2 linked regions of the Homo sapiens genome follow. The protein of the gene in region 1 purifies or fractionates together with the protein of each later gene. This does not show direct contact. Each region holds a gene or a part of one and is shown on either strand. Other genes may lie near its edges.

Region 1 (3,224 bases):
TAATTACAAATTATAGACTAAGCAAGGCAAAGTTTGTACAGTGTTTAGTATAGAGCCTGTAGCACAATAAGCATTCAAAAAATAAAAGCTATTGTTTATTTCCTTGTTTATGACCATTATTGTTTTGTTGCTCTGTGCATTTTCTTGCTGATGTTGTGTTGATTCTCTGTTGATGTGTTAGGTGGCTGACATTGCACTAAAGTGATGTGCGCTGTAATAACCATGCACTTCTTTGCCCACTAGGGCAGAAGATGGGGCTGGTTGTTCCCACTGCTACTGTGCTTCTTCACTTACCTAATGGTCAGTTTGGGGGTCCTTTGGCCCCTCTCAAGTCACATAAGGGAGGCAACAGCCTTGTCTTTTGGGGACCAACATGACCTGGGAATAGACAAGTTCCTTTCAAGTCTGTAGTCATTTTTGATTGCCATCTATGCAGCCTTTTCTTTTTCTTTCTGTTTTTGTTTTGATGGCTGCCTATGGGTATTGGAGACTTAAATTTCTTTTACTTATATAAATCAAGAGTAAAAAATACCTAAAACAAAGACTCTATCGATTATATATTTGAGGAAAACCATGGGCAAGCATAAGGAAAACCATGGGCAAGCATAAGGATGCAGCATTCTGCAAGCAGGTACCATGAACACATGTATAAAATTCATTACTTCTTACCTGAATTGTCTGGTGAAGATGATTTTCTCTTTTGGCTTCATACTGCTTGCTTCGTAGACATTGTCTCTGGTTTTCCATAATTAAGAGTCCAAAGTTGTCCAGAAATAACATTTATTAATCAACAGTAAAACACACAATAGAAAAGGCCTTATAAATAAAACTATATATTTATAATGCTTTATTTTTTTGGTCCAGTACTCCACAAAACACTACAGACAGTAACAAAATAATTCAATAAATATTAAAAACTTTCAATAGAATTATAGGACACTTTTTTATCATATGTGAGCATCAACAATGCCACAGCCATTAGATATACTATTAAACACAGTCATAGATATCTTTCTTGAATAATGGACATAATAAATTTTTTATCAAGGAGTCATAACATTTACACATATCCATACACAAGATAACAGCTCAGAGGAAATGAAGCAGACTCCCCAGTGACCTGGTTTCATCTGCCTGTACATCATTTAAAGATATTACAGTGTTAACAGGATAGAAGTCAACACACTGAAGAGAAATGTTGGGATTTGCTTGGGGTGGGAGGAATGAAAGTAGGGTAATTAATGAAAGCAGCTTACATATTTTCCATTGCTCTCTTAGCAATATGCTCCCTTCCCTTTTCTGCCTTTTCTTGGTTGAGGTATTCCAGCACTTTCATTAACAGATCTTCATCCCAGTACTGCCTATTTGGGGTATCATCATTCTTCGGGGGCCCCACAGGGAACCTTTTGCTCACCGGGGCCAGCTTGTCAGTCTCCTGAGAGCTGCCTTGATTCAAATGCTCTTTGATGGCCTGCTCAATTTGTTCCTCTTCCTGCAGGTCATCTTCAGATGAGCCTTGACCAGGAACTCGCTTCACTTGGTTTGAATTAATGATCTCAGGGTATTTAACTAGCATCCTGGCCAAGTACTCACCTAATTCTTGATCCTTGTCGTTCAGGTTTTCATATGCCATCTGTCTGTTTTCAACATGTGGAATCCAGGCAGCTTTGGGAAGCTGGTTCGATCTAGATCTTCCAGCACCATAAGGGAGCCTTGGCAGAACTTTCTCCTGGTTATATGGATTGGGAAAATACGACGTTTTCTGATTTGCTGCACTCTCCATCCCTAAAAGATTTAAAATATCCTCAACACTGAGCCCGTCTGGTAGGGCCTCAGTCCCAGCACGACCAGGTGTTTTAGGGTAGCCACTCTTGGAGAGCATCCTATTTTGGAACAGGTCTGGATGGTCTAAGTCAGCCTCTGAGATGTCATCTAGGTCAACAGGAAGGTCAAGCTCCCGCTCCGGTTCCACTGATCCATTCGGCTTCTCCCCAGTTTTGAGCATCTCAATTAAGTCTTCTGGGGGTATCTGTAAATTCCTTGAGATTTCAATCAGCTGATAAATAGACTGAGAATCAAGAGGTTTCTCAAAAAGCCTGGTGGCCCTTTCCCCATTTTGCCCATTCTGTAACCTCCCACTTCCTGCAGCATTTACTAACCTTTTCAAATAGGCAATTACTTTGGAGACATCATCTGAGAGTTGGTCTTTACTCTCTTTCCGAAGATCTTCTTCCTGGATGCCAAGCTGCCCTGAGCGTTTCATCTCATCGTTGATTTGTTCATTTTTTTCTATATTCTCTTTGCTGTCTCTCACCTCTTCCTGGGTTTGACTCTCTATTTTCTCCTCTACTGGGTTCCAGTCTTCTCCCCCGACCACATCTTCATAGGCAATGTTATTAGCCTTGTAGATATCATCTTCATCATCCGTATAAAGTTTTTGCTCCTCATCCATCCTCTCACGTTTCTGGTTGTTTGGTCCTGTCAGTTTCCCCAGCTCTTGGAAGACAGATTCCAATGTAGCAAGGCTTTGAGGAGTATATTGTTCCTCCACTATTTCATTTGTGCGTTTAAAGGGGTTATCCCTGGAATTCTCTTCATACATAGGAGGGAATTGCATGTGCTTAAGCTTTCTTTCTGGCCACTGCTGTGTCTCATAATCATCACTCATGTCCATTGGAAAGTTCTTTTCTGAATTCAAGGCATAGGGCTTATTTTCTTTTGGTGCAGACTGAGGCTCATTTTCAGCCTGTCTCAAAGCTTCGAGTATTATTCTCATCCAGTCTTCTTCACTCAGTGAATCCCTCTCGGGCAAGTGGCTTTCATCGCCATTTTCTTTTTGCTGAAGGGGGACAGAGACACCTTGGTAGGGATTATAATCTGGGCTGCTTTCTTCCTTATGAGCTTGTTGTCGGAGGTTTTCTATGTACTCCAAAGCCCTGATCATTTCAGGACTGGGAAACTTTTGGACATTTTCCAACCTGAGGTCTGGTTCTTTCTGAAGCAGCTGGTTTCTCTGAAATGAAGCTGCTTCAGCCCCAGAGATGAGGAAAATTAAAGGGATAAGAGACAGGGCTGCTCCAAGCCAGTGGGTCTTTGCTTCAGCCATGTTTGAAAGATTTCCTTAAAACATAAAAAATATGAGTTACACAAATGAAACAAACTAGAAGACACTATAGCAAAAGAAATAATTGATCATTGAGGTGAGGAAAAAACATAGTAGATAT
Region 2 (3,802 bases), on another chromosome or scaffold:
ATATTTATGAGTAAAGTATTTGGAACTTTATTTTTTAAAGCTATCTAATGCATTTTAATTACTGCATTTCAAATTGCTAAATTCCTTTCAATATTTAATGTAAGTATTAAATGTGACAATCATTTGAATTATTGAAGAAGAAAAAATATCTTTGGTGGTCATGTGATGATTATTGAAACATTATGCAGTACTTTTACTCATAAATTATTTATAGGAAGTAAGGAAATATTTTTAACTGGGAGATTATTGAGAGAATTTTGGTTGACTAAGCTATAGATAATTAGAATATTTCCATGTTATCAAGACATTATCACTATTGAGAAAAATGATTTGGTGTTAGATGTAACATCTGAAGGTTATGACTGTAGTTGTTCTGATAACAGCTTTTTCATTATTCTGGAGTTCAACGTTTCAGGAGTAAGGACTTAATTTGTTTCTGTTTTTGTTTTTTGTCCAATCTCTTTTGCATTTGCCATAGCCTAAGTCCAAATGTGTTTGTGAATATTGGGAATTGTCCATTGGGTGAATGTAGTAGATGGAAATGTCAGCTTAGGACCATGATTTCTATTATTTCCCTGCATAGAGATAGAGAAAATGATAAAGTATACTTCTGTCTATGCTTGCCTTGCTGTGGATACCTTTTTATGTAAATGTTTATCCCTTTACATGTCCTCCCTCATTTTTACTGATATCAAAGAAACGGACAATGGGAATATGAAAATTTGCTACGCTCCATCTCTGGTTGAACCTAATTGTCTGCCTTCTCTTAGTCTACAGTGGAATCACTGAATGATAATGAAGAAAGTTATGACCACAAATTTCAATGGGTGCTCAACACTGTGCATCAGAGCAGCCTCACACTGTTGCTCTCCAGCTGTACAAAATGACTATTTTACACTTTCATGTCTCTCAAACTTTAATACTTCCCTTCATCCCCGCCCCACTTCCAGATTCTAACCTTTCATTCACAATGAAAAGTACTCGTTTTCCTACTGTCAATAATTTCCCAGCTTTCCAACATCTGTACTCACATTGTGATAGAAGCAGAAAGCTCCTATCAAAAGCTAGTCAATGTAGTTGCTATCCCTTTCCAGCTTCTCAAAGATTTCGCCCCTTCTCTTGCATTATCATTGCCTTTTTTTGCCAAATTGTTTCTTTTGGCCTTAACATGCTCTTATTATCTCCTTTCTTTAAAAATTTTCTCTTAATTATCTCACATTCCCCTTCAGCTATTGCCTTATTTCTCTGCTGCTTTCGTAATGAGAATCCTCAGAAGAGTTGTTGATAGATGCTCTCTCCATTTTCTTGCCATCCTTCATTTATTTATTAACCAACCCCCATCTGCTTTTCAACCCCCTTTTCCTCTGAAACTTTTAATCAAAGTCACTAGTGACATTCACCAGTTTAAAGGATATTTCTCTGTTAGTACCTTACTAGATTTTTCGACCCGGTTGCATTTAACATAGGCTGTCACTCCTTCTTGAAACACTTTCCTTTCTTGGTATCTATGATATCATATTTGCCTATTTACTCTTATTAATTCTGGTGGGTTTTCAGTAACTGTTGTTCGTGTTTCTTGTTCTATCTCCTTCTGAATATTATAATCAAACCCCTTAGTTTGGGCTCTCTTCTCTTCTCTTTACATACACTCTTTCTCTGGGTGATTGTGTCAGTTCCTCATAGCTTTTAATATCTCCTGTAAATTCATGACTCACAAATATATATATCAGCAATCTGATCTTCTACCCTGAATTCCAGACCCTTATGCCTGATGTCTGACTGCTATTTTGACAGTATGTTTTTGTTATTGTTGTACATCTTTTTTTTTTTTTTTTTTTTTTTTTTTAAAGACAGTCTCACTCTGTCACCCAGGCTGGAGTGCAGTGCACAATCTCAGGTCACTGCAGCCTCCCCCTCCTGGGTTCAAGCAATTCTCCTGCCTCAGCCTCCCAAGTAGCTGGGATTACAGGTTCCTGCCACCACACCCAGCAAATTTTTGTATTTTTAGTAGAGATGGGGTTCCCCATGTTGGTCAGGCTGGTCTTGAACTCCTAACCTCAAGCAGTCCATCCGCCTCGGCCTCCCAAAATGCTGGGATTACAGGCATGAGCCACTGCACCCGGCCTATTGTTGTACGTCATAAATCTACATGTTCAAACTAAAACTTAATGCAGCCTCCTACCCTTCCTGTTCCGTAATTGGCTCCTTCTTGGTCCATTTGCTTATTTGAATAACCTGTGAGTTTTTCTTGATTCCTTCCTTTTCCTCAAGTCCCATGCCAGCTCATCAGCAAGTTCTTTTGTTCCTGTATCTAAACTATAACCTGGGTCTTTTCATCTCACCATCATTTCTTGTCTCCTAATTAATCTGCCTGTACCTACTGTTGTTCCATTATAATGTATTCTCCATGCAGGAGCCAGAATGAGTATTTTAACATGTTAAATCAGATTATATAACTTTGCTGTTTAAATCCCTTCAGAAGTTCCTAATTGCATTTGGAAATACAACTACAAAAGAAAAAAAAATCAAACTCCTCACTGTGGACGTATAAGAATTTATATGGCCTGCCCTTCCCTGTCTCTCTAGCCTCATCTCATTCAATTTTCTCAGTACTTGATGATTGTTACACTCTAGATGTACTACTGATTTCTTTCGGTTATCAGAGAATTTCCGTGCCAAATTCTGCCCTGCCCTGCCCTGCCCTCCCCCGCCCCACCCCGCCTCCACCCTGCCCCCACCCCCTCCCCTCCCCCCTCCCTCCCTCCCTTCCTCCCACTTGCTTGCTTTCTCTCTCTCTCTTTCTCTCTCTCTTTTCTTTCTTTTCTTCCTTCTTTTCTTTTCTCCTTCCTTCCTTTCTTTCTTTTTCTTCTTTTTAGACAGAGTCTTGCACTGTTGCCCAGGCTGGAGTGCAGTGGCGTGATCTCGGCTCACTGCAAGCTCTGCCTCCTGGGTTCACGCCATTCTCCTGCCTCAGCCTCCCAAGTAGCTGGGACTACAGGCGCCTGCCACCATGCCCGGCTAATTTTTTATACTTTTAGTAGAGACAGGGTTTCACCGTGTTGGCCACGATGGTCTCAATCTCCTGACCTTGTGATCCGCCCTCCTCGGCCTCCCAAAGTGCTGGGATTACAGGCGTGAGCCACTGTGCCCTGCCATTTTCTTTTCTTTCTCTTCTCTTCTCTTCTTCTTTCCTTCCTTCCTCCCTTCCTTCCTTCCTTCCTTCCTTCCTTCCTTCCTTCCTTCCTTTCTTTCTTTCTTTCTCTCTCTCTCTTTTGTTTCTTTCTGTCTCTCTCTCTTTCTTTCTTTCTGTCTCTCTCTCTTCCTTCCTCCCTCCCTCCCTTCCTTCACTTCTTCCCTCCCTTCCTTCCTTCCTTCTTTCCTCCATCCCTTCTTTCCTTCTCCTCTTTCTCCTTTTTCTCCTTTCCCATCTTTCTCTCTTTCCTGTCTTTTCTTTTCTTTCCCTCTTTCCTTCTTACACTTTGTTCTTAGTGTTATTCTCTGTATGCTTGGGAAGCCCTTGTCCTGGCTTATCACTTGGCCAACTTCCTTTTCCTTGAGTCTCAGCTCAAATGCCATATAAGACAAGTCTTTCATAACTACCCTAGGTAAAGTCCTCTTTCCTTTTTCTTCTTGCTGAAATTTTATTCTCTTCTATATAACCCTGTTTATTTTGTGAAAAGCAATTATAAAAATTTATAATTTTCTTTTACTATGATAAGCTCTCTTGAAGACAGGATATTGTCTATCTTGTTGTCTCTGAGTAAGCATCTTTTTTCCCCAACAATATTCACCCTCTAAAGAT

The links. The genes of interacting proteins can lie anywhere in the genome.
Region 2: the proteins of SCG2 (region 1) and DCAF6 purify together in Homo sapiens (affinity purification with mass spectrometry; one large-scale study listed by BioGRID and IntAct). This does not show direct contact.

What each region holds. Positions count from the first base shown.
Region 1 is NC_000002.12:223,596,177-223,599,400, forward strand, and holds the end of SCG2 (secretogranin-2 precursor), read right to left. Parts: intron 3,121-3,224; 5' UTR 3,107-3,120; coding exon 1,253-3,106; 3' UTR 764-1,252; downstream 1-763. UniProt on the Homo sapiens protein: Neuroendocrine protein of the granin family that regulates the biogenesis of secretory granules.
Region 2 is NC_000001.11:168,006,144-168,009,945, forward strand, and holds part of DCAF6 (DDB1- and CUL4-associated factor 6), read left to right. Parts: intron 1-3,802. UniProt on the Homo sapiens protein: Ligand-dependent coactivator of nuclear receptors. Enhance transcriptional activity of the nuclear receptors NR3C1 and AR. May function as a substrate receptor for CUL4-DDB1 E3 ubiquitin-protein ligase complex.